2 separate regions of the Homo sapiens genome follow, and region 2 is linked to region 1. The links come from fine-mapping of genetic effects on gene expression. A gene starts in region 1. The other region holds a variant in brackets. All regions are shown on one strand. Distances are between the middles of the regions.

The links. PIP is the estimated chance that this variant, and not a neighbour inherited with it, causes the effect.
Region 2: its variant is the best candidate, but not a certain one, in a credible set for the expression of STX1A in cerebellar hemisphere (GTEx, PIP 0.69).

What each region holds. Positions count from the first base shown.
Region 1 is chr7:73,715,305-73,723,628 of GRCh38, reverse strand. STX1A (syntaxin 1A) reads left to right here and starts at 3,960. Exons shown (of 10, transcript NM_004603.4): 1 at 3,960-4,027. The coding sequence starts at 3,998. RefSeq lists silencers at 3,845-4,044, 4,105-4,304, 4,315-4,374, 4,485-4,564 and an enhancer at 7,651-8,182.
Region 2 is chr7:73,746,366-73,754,689 of GRCh38, reverse strand. No RefSeq gene overlaps it. Among named protein-coding and RNA genes, the nearest start is that of ABHD11, 12 kb to the right of the region's middle. The variant A/G (reference allele first, on the strand shown) is at 3,570.

The DNA.
Region 1 (8,324 bases):
TGCTCACTGCAAGCTCTGCCTCGCAGGTTCACGCCATTCTCCTGCCTCCGCCTCCCAAGTATCTGGGACTACAGGCGCCCACCACCATGCCCGGCTAATTTTTTTTTTTTTTTTTTTTTTGTATTTTTGGTAGAGACAGGGTTTCACCATGTTAGCCAGGATGGTCTCGATCTCCTGACCTCGTGATCCGCCCACCTCAGCCTCCCAAAGTGCTGGGATTACAGGCATAAGCCACCATGCCCGGCCAATACTTTTTAAATGAAGGAATGAAGCCTGGGTATGGTAGCTCATGCCTGCAATCCCAGAAATTTGGGAGGCCGAGGTGGGTGGATCACCTGAGGTTAGGAATTCGAGACCAGCCTGGCCAAGGTGGAGAAACTCCATCTCTACTAAAAATACAAAAAATTAGCCAGGTGTGGTGGCACATGCCTGTAATCTCAGCTATCTGGGAGGCTGAGGCAGGAGAATTGCTTGAACCCGGGAGGCGGAAGTTGCAGTGAGCCAAGATTGTGCCATTTTACTCCAGCCTGGATGACAAGAGTGAAACTCGGTCTCTAAATAAATAAAGGAATGATAATCTGGCCCTCGATGGGCTTCCCTTTTCTGCACAATAGTTTAGCATCCAAGGCCTCCCCCTTCCTTGGGCTCATCCCCCACCTATGTCCACCCAAGTGCCACAGCAGGCTCCTGAGGTGCTCCCGGTAGAGTGCTCCATTTTAGAGAGCTCCCCACCCCCACCCCTGCCCCAGCATCCTTCCTTTGTCCACTCCCTGCTGCAATCCCACTGCAACACCCTGTTCGAATGTCACCACCTCTGGGAAGCCACCCTGGTTCCCTCACCTACCAAAACCATGTCTGTCTCCCCCACTGCAGTGGGAACATCTTGAGTGCAGAACAGTGGCCCCAGAGCATGGTTTCCCATTTAATGTTTGATGAATGAATGAATGATTAAATGAGGAAAAGACTTAGCAGAAAAACAGAGTTTAAAGAGAAGGGCAAGCCCGGGTGCAGTGCCTCACACCTGTAATCCCAGCACTTTGGGAGGCCAAGGCGGGTAGATCATTTGAGGTCAGGAGTTCAAGACCAGCCTGGCCAACATGGTGACGCCCCATCTCTACTACAAATACAAAAATTAGCTGGGCGTGGTGGCGGGTGCCTGTAATCCCAGCTGCTCAAGAAGCTGAGGCAGGAAAATCACTTGAACATGGGAGGTGGAGGTTGTAGTGAGCCTGGATTGCACCACTGCACTGCAGCCTGGGTGACAGAAAGAGACTCAGCCTTAAAAAAACAAACAAACAAAAAAAAGAAGTGAAAGGCACACTTTTTTTTTTTTTTTAAGAGATGGAGTCCAGGCTGGTCTTAAACTCCTGGCCTCAAGCAATCCTCCCTCCTGGGCCTCCCAAAGTGCTGGATTACAGGCATGAGCCACTGTGCCTGGCCACATTTATTTCTTTATTCATTTTTCATGCTACTATTTAATATGCGTCTCAATGAGTGATGCTTGGTGTGACACCAGGGCTCTCAGAGGGCAGGAGCTGAGCCTCCCTTTCCTGCCCTCTCCCTAAGGGGCCAGACACTGGGCTCTGGGGGCATACCTGTGACCCACCCCACTGACTCACCCTGCAGGCTAGACCAGGAGTCAGGCAGACTCCCCTGTCACTTGTCATCTCTGGGCAAGTTCCTCTAGCACTTACCTCCTTACTTTTCCTCTGTGAAGTGGGGCGCCATCAATGCCCATTCTGCAGGGCACCCAAAGTTGAAGCCGGGACAACTGGAACAGGGTGTGGCTGTTCCCTCTGCCAGGCCACATCGGACCGTCTTGGGCCAGATTTTCCAGGGAAGAAGGGAAAGCTGGAACAGTGTCCCTAGCTTGCCTGGCAGCCAGCTAACCTGTGCCCATAGTCTGGGAGAGGTGCCAGGCCCAGACACACTGGGCAGCAGGGGGCTGGATTGGCTCCAGAGCTCCAATGCTTTGGCAGTCCTGGGGAAGGGAAGGGATGTGCTTGGCTTCAGGTCAAGAGGGTGTGGGCCACAGAAGTGACAGCTGGGGGTGGTGGAGGGCACAGCGGGCTTATGGGGGTGTGTGCGAGACCACTGTTGCAACAAGATGCTGGCAGGGACCTTCAAAAGAACATCTGCTGTTGACTGGCCTCCCCACTCCCACTCCTCCACAGGTTTTCCCATGAGTCCTAGAGGAAGCCAGGCCCCAGGCTTCTAGATAGAAAATAGAACCTACATTGGCCAAGTGTAATCCCAGTGCTTTGGAAGCCCAAGCCAGGAGGATCGCTTGAGGCTAGGACTTTGAGACCAGCCTGGGCAACATGAGGAGACCCCGTCTTTACAAAAACGAAAAAAGAGAAAATAGAACCTCAGGCCTAGAGCCAGAGTTCAGGATTGGGGATGCAGGGAAAGGAGGAGAGGGGGGCCATAACTCAAATCTCTTTCCCAAAGATAGAGTAGTTCCTGGCTGGGTGCAGTGGCTCACACCTGTAATCCCAGCACTTTGGGAGGCTGAGGCAGGCAGATCACTTGAGGTCAGGAGTTCGAAACCAGCCTGGACAACATGGTGAAACCCCTTCTCTACTAAAAATACAAAAAAATTAGCCAGGCGTGGTTGTGGGTGCCTGTAATCTCAAGCTACTTGGGAGGCTGAGGCAGGAGAATTGCTTGAACTCGGGAGGTGGAGGTTGCAGTGAGCCAAGATCGTGCTACTGCACTCCAGACTGGGCAACAGAGTGAGACTCCGTCTCAAAAAAAAAAAAAAAAAATAGGCCGGGCACGGTGGCTCACGCCTATAAGCCCAGCACTTTGGGAGGCCGAGGCGGGAGAATCAAGAGGTCAAGAGTTTGAGACCAGCCTGCTCAACATGGTGAAACCCTGTCTCTACTAAAAAATACAAAAAATTAGCCGGGCGTGGTGGTGGGCACCTGTAATCCCAGCTACTTGGGAGGATGAGGCAGGAGACTCGCTTGAACCCAGGAGGCAGAGCTGAGATAGCGCCACTGCACTCCAGCCTGGGCGACAAGAGTGAAACTCCATCTCATAAATAAATAATCAAACAAACAAACAAACATAAAAAGATAGAGGAGTTCCTTCATCCTGCAGGAAAAAGGGGTGGGTCACGCAGCATCAGAGCTGTGAACTGAGAAATCCTAGGGAAAGAAGAGGCCAGTGCCTGAGTCCCTACTGGATGATGGGAGCAAGGGGGAAGGGTGGAGGCTCCCAGACTGGAACTCTCCAGGAGGTTTTTGGCTGGGGAACAGAAGGGAGAGCAGGAGGTCCCAAGGTAATGAAATGAAGGAGGGAGTTACAACCTTCAGCAAATTCTGGGGAAGTGAAGGGATCTGAGGATGAGGACCGGATTCTGGGACAGGGATGCTGAGCTGCTAAGTCGGGAAGAGGCTGGAAGCCAGGCACGGTGGCTCACGCCTGTAATCGCAGAGCTTTGGGAGGAGGGAGGATCGCTTGAGGACAGGAGTTCAAGACCAGCCTGAGTAACATAGCAAGACCCTGTCTCTACAAAATATTTGAAAATTATTCAGGAGTAGTGGCGAGCAACTCTAGTCCCAGCCACCCAGGAGACTGAGGCGGGAGGATTGCCTGAGCTCAGGAGCTCAAGGCTGCAGTGAGCTATGATTGCACCACAGCACTCCAGCCTGGGCGACAGAGCGAGACCCTGTCTCCAAAAATAATAAATAAAAAACGAGACAGGGCTGGGGCAGAGGAGGCAGCAGGGTCTCTGGGGACCCATCCCCGGGAGCGATCACGCGTGCGGAACGTCCAGGACGAGACCCCAGGGCTTCGATCCCCACGGGGCTGCTCGTGCGGGGTGGGGCGGGGTCTGGGCGGGGTCTGGGCGGGGCCCGGGCGGGGTGGGGCGGGGCCGGGGTCCCGGGGGCCGGGGCGGGGCCGGGCTGGCGCTGCGCAGCCGCGGGGCGGCCGTCGCGCATGCGGGGCTCACACGGCTGCAGCCGGCGCCGCTGCCACTCCCGGGAGCATGAAGGACCGAACCCAGGAGCTCCGCACGGTGAGTCCGGCCCCAGCGCGCGGCCGCCCGCCGCCCGCCGCCAGCGCCAACGCGCCGGACACTTCCCGCCCGGCTCCCGCGGCCAGGATGGTGGCCGCTCCTGCGCCCCCAGCCAGGGCTGAAGGGAGCGGGGCGAGCCAGGGACCTCGACCCCCCTCCGGGTTCCGCCCCTCGGACCCACTCGGGGTCAGGCTCGCGTGAGCTCGGCCGCGCTGACACGTGGACGGTCGGCTGGAGTCCGGGGTCCTGGATAAACTTTTCGGGGCCCTCTTGATTTGGGGGGTTCGGAGGGTATGATGGGGTTTTGGTGGCGGGACCTCTTCCCCCTCCCGCAGAGCAGGCCCTTTCTCTGGCCCCCTCACTGCCCCTCATCTCTGACCTCCCGTGCCCCCTCGGTGTAGACAGACGAGGGGACCGCGGTGGGAACCTCCTTGGTGTAGACAGACGAGGGGACCGCGGTGGGCCGGTGCCGGTCCCCTGCGCGGGGCCCCGCTGCGGGGCGCGCTGCGGAAACCTGATCGTCGGGTGGTGGCGGCCTCCTCGGGCCACCCTGGTCACCTGTGGCTCCCATCACCTGTGGCTCCCCCTCTGCTTGGTCGCAGTAGGGATCCACTGCCCGCCCCAGGTATGGGGGGGGGGGCGTCACACCCGCCCCCGGTCCACCTATCCACCTTCGGGCTTTCGGGCAGCACTGGCTGGCGTTTCCAGACCCTTCAGGGTTCCTTGCGACTTGGATCTATTTTTCTACCTGTATCTGGGAAACCCCTGGGGTGTGGCTCCTGGGGCGGGGTTTGGGGGGAGTAGGAGGATGCACAAACGTTCTGAGTCAGAGCCCACCTTCTCCCAGCCCAGAGACCCCTGCAGCCTGCGTGGGTCCCCTTCCCCTGGCCTCTGCCCTTAGGGATGAGGAGCCCAGGAGGATGGTGACCGGGAGTGGAGGACAGCGACGGAAATGAAGCCTCTCTGGGTGTGTCGGGGAGGGGGGGTGGATCAAGGCTCAAGACTAGATTGAGTCTCATCTGGTCATCTGGTCCCCTGGCTGGCCACCTGGCTGGCAGCCCTGCCTGCTGATCCCTGGGAGCACCCCCCACCCCGCTCCCTGGGCTAGGAACTAGAACCCTAAGGTCCCCTCCTATGGAAAATGTCAAGTGTCCTTTGGGCATTTGACCCCACGGCTTGTCTTCTCCACCCAGAGGCTCCCTGAGTTGGAGCCTGTCTGCCCCATTATGTCATGGTTGCCTCCTGGGCATCCTGGAGCCGGGACCTGGGCTCCCCTGCCTTCATGTCCCCCACTTGCTCTGGCACCACGGCCTCCACTTTGCCTCCAGACCTGTTATTCCTGGCCGAGCGCCCAGCCCCTGGTGTAAACCCCATGAGGTTTCAAAGGAAGAAGATGGTCCCTCAAGTCGCATATGGGCTCTAAACACTTCCCCCGCGGCCCCTGTGGTTGCCCTCAAGTTTCCTGAGCTCCGTTGAGTCAGAATGAGTGTTTTCCTGGTGACGGATGGCTGTGTGGTGTAATGTGCTGATGTTTAGGCGCCTGGTAGGTTACCTGAGGGTGTGTGTGGGAACCAAGTGGTCAGGGGAACCATGGGCCCCTACATAGGATAATAGCCTCTGGCATGTCAGCCTTCATCCCCCTAGCTGAAGGGGAAACTGAGGCACAAAAGAAACACGGCTTGCCTGCTAGAGGGAGGGGTGGTAGAAAAGGGCTTTGCCTCATCCCTGAAGATAGTCAGACTCAGGCCTGGCTGACACTGGGGGACAGCCAGTGGAGCTGGGGTTGTGAAGCGTTTGAACCCAGATCTTTTTGCTCTGATGTCTGTCTCTGTTACTACCTCCTCGCCCCCTGATTAGATGGTGAAGCCAGGCTTTGCTTTGAATGGTCTGAGGCTTCCGCTCCAGACACCCCCACCCTCCCCACACAAGGCATTCAGAGCCCAGGGAGGCTGTACCCATTGCTGGGTGGCCCTGCCCAGGGAGGGCTTTCTAGCAGACAGGTGGACGGCTGGCAGGCAGGAGCCCACCCGGGGTGGGGTGAGACAGTCAGTCTTGGTGGGGCCACTGTTCCCACAGGCTGCTTTCCCTCTGGACCTAGGGTTCCCATCTGTGAAGTGGGGATGGGAAAGCCTAGAATTCAGTTTCTCGGGACGAGAAGCAGGGCTACAGGTCTCCTGACTCCAGCTCCACATTTGTAGGAGGCCTGAAGCCCCAGGAGTCAGAATTTTCAGCCCAGAATCCCCAGAAAGGAAGAGGCCAGCACTGGCTGAGCTGGACTGGGCTGGACTGGGCTGGACTGGGGCGGGCTGGGCTGGGCTGGGCTGAACAGAGATGGTGCTGGGGACAGCGGCTGTGCACCGCTCCCAGCCCTCCCTCCCTCCCTCTTCCTCCTCCTCCTCCCTCTTCTTTCTCCTTCTCCCCCACCCAACACCACCACATTTGGAAGGAGGCGAAGAGAGCTTATTTATAAAAGTCACACTTGGGGAAGGAGCTGGCGCGTTTCCTCACTCTGCAGGCCCGGCCCAGCCCTCCAGCCTTCTCCAGCCTTCTCCAGCTCCCAACTCTCCCTCTGCAGATGGGGAGTGAAGGGGGTCACTGGGGACTAGCCAGGGGGCCTCAATGCTGTCGCAGTCCCTCAGAGATCAGAAAGGCCACTTGCAGGTTACAGGTAACAAAGAGAGACCGAAGACAGGGCCAGGGTCACACAGCCAGGGAAAGACTTTTAGGTTAGAGCATCCCCAGGAGCCCCACTCAGGCTGTAGCTGCCTCCTCCCCTCAACTCAGAGACTCCCTGATTTTCTTCCTGGGGACTTTGCAGAGCTGACCTTTCTCCCTGGGCCCAGAACATGTATTTGTCTATGTGCCAGGTCATGTGGGACAGACACATGGGACCTGTTGCAGGAGGCTGAAGACGTAGCAAGGAGGGAGAGTTGGAGCAGCACAATCCTGGAAGGCTTCCTGGAAGAAGAGACCCTGGGATAGCACAGGAGCAGGAGCTGGATTTGAATAGGAGGAGAGAAGGTGATCCAAAGGAGGGGACAGCTTAGTGAAGGCAGAGAGATTGGAATGCTCAACCAGGAGAGAATAGCAGGTGGTCCTGACAGCTGGTGTCTGGGGCCCCCTGAAGTGCCTTGAGGTCTAGACTAGGGCCCAACTCACTGGAGCAGCCCAGGCAGGCCTGGATGGGAAGGCCCAGGGCCCTGCTTTGCCCATCAGTTTCCCCTTCTCTTTCGTTGCTGGGAAGAGTCTGGCGGTTGGGTGGCAACACCGGGCAGGTTCATCCTTAATCTCCCTCTGCTCATTTCCTCATCTGCAGAATGGAGCCAGTGTTACCTACTTTGCAGAGTGGCAGGCACGAGAGTGTAAGAACAGGAGCCGGACAGGGCTCGCCCGATCCTTCCTCCCATTACGTTCCAGAGGTTTCCCAGCATGAACGATGCATTTGGGTACATTTTCATCTGGGGTGCAGGTGGAACGGCCTCCCGGGACCATCTAGTTCAACCTCCTATCTTACAGATCAGAAAACAGGTCCAGAAAGGGCCAGGTGTTTATCTGAGGTCATGCAGCCTGTGGGGGCAGAGCCTGGCCCCTTCCACGGCCTGAAGCTGCCTCCCTGAGCCACTCTGGGGCCCTGTGAAGGGGCAGGCTCTGCAGGGCGGGGACCTGGTGTACACACAGCTGGAGGCTGGAGACAGGGTGAGGAGGCTCAGATTGCACAGCCGTCTTTCCTGGAGACCCAGCTTGGCCTCTCGCACACCCCTGACTCAGCTCCGGGCCTCTCTGCACTAGTGATATTGACTTTGATTAGTCATTTAAAAGAAGAAGGGAAAAAAATAGCCCTCGAGGCAGACAACAGCCACTGTGCTCAGCAGTGATGAATCAACCTTGCCAGCCTGGTGGCTTCCCCTGGGACACGCCTGGAGGCTGCCTGGCCTCTGCGCCTCTTGGAGGAGTCAGACTATTACATCCAGGAAGGTGTCCTGGAATCCTGGAGTCTCTGCTAGGAGAGACCACCAGGGCTGCCCCACCTCTGCCAGGGGAAGCTCAGGGCATCCAGCTCCCCGTGGTTCCAGCAGGGTCTGTTCTTCCTAGCAGTCTCCATGCTAGGGAGGTAAGGAGCACTCCCTCCCAGCCTTCCTGGTTGGAGGTGGTGTTTTTTGTTGGTTTTTTTTTTGTTTTTTTAGACGGAGTCTCGCACTGTCTCCAGGCTGGAGTGCAATGGTGCCATCTCAGCTCACTGCAGCCTCCACCTCCTGGGTTCAAGTGATTCTCCTTCCTCAGCCTCCTGAGTAGCTGA
Region 2 (8,324 bases), 31 kb before region 1:
TGTTGTTGTTTTTTAATTACATTTCTTTTTTTTTTTTTTTTTTTTTTTTTTTTGAGATGGAGTCTCGCTTGGTTGCCCAGGCTGGAGTGCAGTGGCGCCATCTCAGCTCACTGCAAGCTCTGCCTCCCGGGTTCATGCTATCCTCCTGCCTCAGCCTCCCAAGTATCTGGGACTACAGGTGCCTGCCACCACACCCGGCTAATTTTTTGTTGTTGTTGTATTTTTAGCAGAGACGGGGTTTCACCATGTTAGCCAGGATGGTCTCGATCTCCTGACCTTGTGATCCGCCCACCTCGGCCTCCCAAAGTGCTCGGATTATAGGCATGAACCACTGCGCCCGGCCTAAATTTCTTTTTTTAAATAGAGACAGGGTTTTGTCATATTGCCCAGGCTGGTCTGGAACTCCTGGGCTCAAGTGATCCGCCCACCTCACCCTCCCAAAATGCTGGAATTACAAGCGTGAGCCACCATGCCCAACCTATAAGTATGCTTCTGAGTCTTAAATAAGTAAGTTTGAGATGGGCAGAGCTAAGAGGGGAAGCCTTCCCAAGCAGGATTCACTGATGGGCAACAGCAAGGAGAAAAATGATATGCACAAGGCAGAAAAATGATATGCACAAGAGTGAGCAGAGGCTGACCTGATTGAAGCAGGAAATTCATATCCAGAAACAGTAAGAGGCCAGGCGCGGTGGCTCATGCCTGTAATCCCGGCACTTTGGGAGGTCGAGGCAGGCGGATCACCTGAGGTCAGGAGCTCAAGACCAGCCTGGCCAACATGGTGAAACACCGTCTCTACTAAAAATACAAAAATTAGCCAGGCATGGTGGTGCGAGCCTGTAATCCCAGCTACTCAGAAGGCTGAGGAACAAGAATTGTTTGAACTTGGGAGGTGGCGGTTGCAGTGAGCTGAGATTGCACCACTGCACTCCAACCTGGGTGACAGAGTGAGACTCTGTCTCAGAAAAAAAAAGAACAAAGTTGGAGGACTCATACTTTCTGCTTTCAAAACTTACTACAAAGCTACAGTAATCAAAACAGTGGTACTGGCATGAAGACAGACATATAGACCAATGGAATAGAATAAAAAGCTCAGAAATAAACACTCATATATGAAGTCAAATAATTTTCAATAAGGATACCAAAACCACTCAGTGAGGAATGGGCAATCTTTTCACAGATAATGCTGGGAAAACTGGATATTTGCATGCAAAAAAATGAAGTTGGTTCCTTAACACCATATAAAAAAATTTACTCAAAATGGATCAAAGACCTAAATATAAGATCTAAAACTATAAAACTTAGATGGCTGATCAACCAAGTTTATAGGATATTATAAATCCTTTGTTGTCATTTCAACAGTGTTCACACAATCTTCACCAGGAGTAGTTTCCATCTCAAGAAACCACTTTCTGGCTGGGCGCGGTGGCTCACGCCTGTAATGCCAGCAATTTGGGAGGCTGAGGCAGGTGGATCACTTGAGGTCAGGAGTTTGAGACCAGCCTGGCCAACATGGTGAAACCCTGTCTCTACTAAAAATACAAAAATTAGCTGGGCATGCTGGCACGTGCCTGTAGTCCCAGCTACTTGGGAGGCTGAGGCAGGAGAATCGCTTGAACCCAGGAGACAGAGATTGCAGTGAGCCCAGACGGCACCATTGCACTCCAGCCTGGGTGACAGAGCAAGACTCCGTCTCCAAAAAAAAAAAAAAAGAAACCGCTTTCTTTGCTCATCATAAGAAGCAACCCCTTGCCAGGCACAGTGGCTCATGCCTGTAATCCCAACACTTTGGGAGGCCAAGGCAGGCAGATCACTTGAGACCAGGAGTTCAAGACCAGGCTAGCCAATAAGGCGAAGCCCCTCTCTAAAAAAAAAAAAAAAAATACAAAAAGTAGCAGGGTGTGGTGGTGCACAGCTGTGATCCCAGCTACTCAGGAGGCTGAGGCATGAGGATCTCTTGAACCCACGAGGCGGAGGTTACAGTGAGTCAAGATCACACCACTGCACTCCAGCCTGGGCAACAGAGCGAGACTCTGTCTCAAAAAACACCAAGACGTAACAAAGAAGCAACTCATCATCTTTTCAAGTTTGATCATGAGATTGTAGCAATTCAGTCCCATCTTCACGCTTGGCTTCTAATCCTAGTTCTTTTGTTATTTCCACCACATCTGCAATTCCTTCCTCCACTGAAGTCTTGAATCCCTCAAACTTATCCATGAGGGTGGAATTCACTTCTTCTAAACTCCTGCTAATGTGGATATTGTCACCTCCTCCCATGAACCCTGAATGTTCTTAATGGCTTCCAGAATGGCGAATTCTTTCCAGGAGGTTTTCAATTTACCTTGCCCAGATCCATCAGAGGAATCACTATCTATGGCAGCTACAGCCTCACAAAATGTATTTCTTAAATAATAAGACTTAAAAGTCTAAATTGCTCCTTGATCCATGAACAGCAGAATGGATGTTTTATTTGCAGCCATGAAAACAACATTAATCTCTTTGTACATCTTCAGCAGAGCTCTTGGGTGACCAGGTGCATTGTCAATAAGCAATACTATTTTGAACAGAATCTTTTCTTTTTTCTGAGCAGGAGGTGTCAACAGTGGGCTTCAAATATTCAGCAAACCATCTTGTAAACAGATGTGCAGTCACCTAAGCTTTGTTGTTCCATTTCTAGAGCACAGGCAGAGTCGATTTAATGTAATTCTTTTTTTTTTTTTTTTTTTTTTTTTGAGATAGAGTTTCGTTCTTGTTGCCCAGGCTGGAGTGCAGTGGCGCAATCTCGGCTCACGGCACTGCCTCCTGGGTTCAAGCGATTCTCCTGTCCCAGCCTCCCAAGTAGCTGGGATTACAGGCATATGCCACCACACCTGGCTAATTTTTGTATTTTTAGTAGAGACAGGGTTTCATCATATTGGTCAGGCTGGTCTCGAACTCCTGACCTCAGGTGATCTGCCCACCTCAGCCTCCCAAAGTGCTGGGATTACAGGTGTGAGCCACCGCACCTGGCCGATTTAATGTAATTCTTAAGGGCCCTGGGATTTTCAGAATGGCAAAGGAGCATTGGTTTTAACTTCAAGTCACCAGCTGCATTACCCCGAACAAGAGTCAGCCTGTCCTTTGAAGCTTCAAAGCCAGGCATTAACTTCTCTCTAGCTATGAAAATCTTAGATAAGCCGGACACAGTGTTGGCTCATGCCTATAATCCTAGTACTTTGTTTTCTTGTTTGTTTGTTTGTTTGTTTGTTTGAGATGGAGTTTCACTCTTTTGGCCCAGGCTGCAGTGCAGTGGCATGATCTCGCTTCACTGCAACCTCCACCTCCTGGGTTCAAGTGATTCTCCTGCCTCAGCCTCCTGAGTAGCAGGGATTACAGGCGTGCGCCACCATGCCCAGCTAATTTTTTGTATTTTTAGAAGAGATGGGGTTTCACCATGTTGGCCAGGCTGGTCTTAAACTCCTGACCTCAAGCGATCCACTGGCCTCAGCCTCCCGAAGTGCTGGGATTACAGGCATGAGCCATGGTGCGGGTCAACCCTTTTGGTCTTAAAGCTTGAAACTTACATTTACTTG[A/G]TCTGAATTTCTTCTTTAGGAAATGACCATCAGCCCTCTCAAAAAGTATGAAAGAACTGAAACTCACCAGATCATGGCATCTAGACAATGAAATGCCAGGCCCCTCATTCATCATGATTGCTTCCTTACCCTTCCCCCAAGTTCTTGTTTTCCCATACATGGTTACATTTGTTCCCTGCTATATAAGACCCTAACTTCAGTCGATCAGGGAGATGGATTTGAGACCAATCTCCCATCTCAGCCACAGCACCCAATTAAAGCCTTCTTCCTTGGCAATAATCGTCTCAGTGATTGGCTTTCTGTGCGGCAAGCAGCAGGACCTCGCCTGAACCCCTGCTGTTTTGGTAACAAGAACAGTGCTTGGCATTTGTTAAGCATTCCATAAGTGTTAACTGTTCTAATATCTCAGGGGCATCTCAAACATATAGAGCATTGTATAGGGAAAAGAGAGAGATCCGACTGTTACTGTGTCTATGTAGAAAAGGAAGACATAAGAAACTCCATTTTGATCTGTACTAAGAAAATTGTTTTGCCTTGAGATGCTGTTAATCCGTAAACTTTAGCCCCGACCCTGTGCTCACAGAAACATGTGCTGTATGGCATCAAGGTTTAAGGGATCTAGGGCTGTGCAGGCTGTGCCTTGTTAACAATATGTTTACAGGTAGTATGCTTGGTAAAAGTCATCGCCATTCTCCAGTCTCGATTAACCAAGGGCACAATGCACTGCGGAAAGCCGCAGGGACCTCTGCCTAAGAAAGCCTGGGCATTGTCCAAAGTTTCCCTCCACTGAGACAGCCTGAGATGTGGCCTCGTGGGAAGGGAAAGAACTGACCGTCCCCCAGCCCAACACCCAAAAAAGGGTCTGTGCTGAGGAGGATTAGTAAAAGAGGAAGGCCTCTTGCGGTTGAGATAAGAGGAAGGCCTCTGTCTCTTGCTTGTCCCTGGAAACAGAATGTCTCAGTGTAAAACCCGATCGTACATTTGTTCTATTCTGAGATAGAAGAAAACCGCCCTGTGGCTGGAGGCAAGATATGCTGGCGGCAATGCTGCGCTGTAATTTTTTACTACACTGAGCTGTTTGGGTGGAGAGAAGCATAAATCTAGCCTATGTACACATCCAGGCACAGTACCTTCCCTTGAACTTATTTGTGACATAGATTCCTTTGCTCACGTTTTCCTGCTGACCTTCTCCCCACTATCACCCTGTTCTCCTGCTGCATTCCCCTTGCCGAGATAGTGAAAATACTAATCAATAAATACTGAGGGAACTCAGAGACCAGTGCCGGTGCGGGTCCTCCGTATGCTGAGCGCTGATCCCCTGGGCCCACTGTTCTTTCTCTCTACTTTGTCTCTGTCTTATTTATTTTCTCAGTCTCTCGTCCCACCTGACGAGAAATACCCACAGGTGTGGAGGGGCAGGCCCCCTACAGCACTGGGGTGAAAGCTAAGATGAATTACAGAAAATAATGTCATTGCACATCTAAGTTTTTATTGACATTCGGTAACTGCTAGAATGTCCCAAGTGGACATTCTAGAGTCTCCTTACTTGCACCCTATAGAGTGGAAAAAAACAAACAAACAAAACCACCTTCCCCATCTCAGTAAATAGCACAACTACTCGCCACCCACATGTTCAATCCAGAAACCTGGGAGCTGTCCTTGGTGTCTTCCTCTCCCTCACCACCATCTTTCCCCCTCCCCATCCCATTCCTCATCAAATCCTGTTGATTCGAACTCCAAAATACATCCCAAATCTATCTTTCTTTCCCTACTTCCACAGCCACCTTCCAGTCATGTGACCATCATGCCTCAGTTGAATGTCTGCAATAGCTTCCTCATTTTGCCGCTTCTCCTCTGCTTCCCCTCTAATCTGCCTCACACCTTCTTCTACACAGCCAAATAGTCCTTTGAAAGTGTAAATCGGGGCTGGGTGCGGTGGGTCACGCCTGTAATCCCAGCACTTTGGGAGGCCGAGGAGGGTGGATCACGAGGTCAGGAGATTGAGGCCATCCTGGCTAACACAGTGAAACCCCGTCTCTACTAAAACTACAAAAAATTAGGCGGGTGTGGTGGTGGGCACCTGTAGTCCCAGCTACTCGGGAGGCTGAGGCAGGAGAATGGTGGGAACCTGGGAGGCGGAGCTTGCAGTGAGCTGAGATGGTGCCACTGCACTCCAGCCTGGGCGACAGAGCAAGACTCCGCCTCAAAAAAAAACAAAAATGTAAACCGGGCGGGGCATGGTGGCTCATGCCTGTAATCCCAGTACTTTGGGAGGCTGAGGCATACAGATCACATGAGATCAGGAGTTCAAGACCAGCCTGGCCAAGATGGTGAAACCTCATCTCTACTAAAAATACAAAAATTAGCCGGGAGCCTATAATCCCAGCTACTTGGGAGACTGAGGCAGAGAACTGCTTGAACCCGGGAGGTGGAGGTTGCAGTGAGCTGAGATGGCGCCAGTGCACTCCAGCCTGGGAGACAGAGCGAGGCTCCATCTCAAAAAAAACAAAAGAAGTAAATCGGCTGGGCACGGTGGCTCACGCCTGTAATCCCAGCACTTTGGGAGGCCAAGGTGGGCAGATCACTTGAGGTCAGGAGTTTGAGATCAGCCTGGCCAACATGGTGAAACCCCATCTCTACTAAAAATACAAAAAATTAGCCAGGCATGGTGGCTCACACTTGTAGTCCCAGCTACTCAGGAGGCTGAGGCAGGAGAATCACTTGAACCTAGGAGGTGGAGGTTGCAGTGAGCCGAAATTGCACTATTGCACTCCAGCCTAGGTGACAAGAGCAAAACTCCATCTCAAAAATAAAAATGAAAATAAATAAAAATGTAAATCACGGTGGTGTGCACCTGTAGTCCCATCTAGTCCAGAGGCTGAGGAGGGAAGATTGTTTGAGCCCAGGAGTTCAAGGCCAGACTGGGCAAAATAGTGAGACCCCCATCTCTAAAACTAAAATAAATAAATACGTAAAATTAGCCAGTGTGGTGGTATACACCCGTAGTCCCAGCTACTTAGGAGGCTAAGGCAGGAGAATCACTTGAGCCAGGAAGTTGGAGGCTATAATGAGCTATGATTGTTTTAATGCACTTCACACTCCAGCCTGGATATGACAATGCAAGACCCTGTCTCTTTAAAAAAAAAAAAAAAAAAAAGAAAAAGAAAAAGAAAAAAAAGAGGCTGGGTTCGGTGGCTCACACCTGTAAACACTTTGGGAGGCTGAGGCAGGAGAATCACTTGAGCTCAGAAGTTTGAGACCAACCGGGTTATGTGGTGAAACCCCGTCTCTACAGAAAAATACAAAAATTAGGCTGGGCGTGGTGGCACACACCTGTAATCCCAGCTACTTGGGAGGTGGAGGCAGGAGAATTGCTTGAATTCGGGAGGCGGAGGCTGTAGTCAGCTGAGATCGTGCCACTGCACTCCAGCCTGGGTGATAGAGCAAGACTCCTGTGTTGCCTCCTCCTGGACTTGTCCATCTTGGCCCCTCCAGACATTTCCCTCCCTGGTCATCAGCATGATCTTTTAACAACATAAAATATGCTTCTATTTTAATCTATTTTGTTTTTTTGTACATTTTCCTGTTTTTCTGGGCTCTGTGTTCTGGGGTCTCAAACAAACAAACAAACAAAATTAGCCAGGTGTGGTGGCATGCACCTGTAGTCCAGCTACTTGGGAGGCTGAGGTGGGAGGATCTCTTGAGTCCAGGAGGCAGAGGTTGCAGTGAGCCGAGATCCTGCCACTGCACTCCAGCCTGGGCAACAGAGCCAGACTCTGTCTCAAAAAAAAAAAAAAAGAAAAGAAAAGAAAAAGAAAAGGAAAGTCAGTTGGTTGTGGACCAATATGTATGGCATTCTAGCAGTTACCGAATGTCAGTAACAAACTTAAATGTGCAATGACATTATTTTCTGTAATTCACCTTAGTGTCCATCCTCGATGCTCTATTCTGCAGAAGCAGCTGGAAACAAGTTTTTTTTTTTTTTTGAGATGGAGTCTCGCTCTGTCACCCAGGCTGGAGTGCAGTGACTCAATCTCGGCTCACTGCAACCTCCACGTCTCAGATACAAGCAATTCTCCTACCTTAGCCTCCCAAGTAGCTGGGATTACAGGTGGGTGCCACCACGCTGGCTAATTTTTGTATTTTTAGTAGAGACGGGGTTTCACCATGTTGGGCAAGCTGGTCTCGAACTCCTGACCTCAAGTGATCCACCTGCCTCAGCCTCCCAAAGTGCTGGGATTACAGACGTGACCATCACAGCCGGCCTGGAAACAAGTTTAACCTCAGTCCTCCTGAGACTGGGCCACAATTCCTGCATACTCAACAGGGCCAGATTTGCTTAGAGAGGAGGGAGCCTGCAGGGAGTTGTACAGCATCCAGCCCTCTAGCAGCAATGACAAGACATCCATCATCCTGTGTCAACAGCCCCTCCAGTTCCGCAGGCTGCACTGTGTCTGCTCTGAACCTGGGAAACAGAGGAATATTTTGCAAGCTGCTTATGGTCCTGCCGGCCTGGCAGGCTCATGAGCCATTCTTCTCTGGGGACCCTGCCAAGAAGCAGGTGGCAGACCTTCCTTCCATTCTTGGCCAAGATACTGTCTCTGCTGAAGCATTCCCTTCCCTTAAGGGCTTTAGCTTTTGAAACACATAAACCAGCTTCTCCACTCTTAGGTCCAGCCGTATGCATCCCCCGGGGCAATGAGCCCAGAACCCAGAACACAGAAAAATAGGAAAATGTACAAAACAAGAAAAATG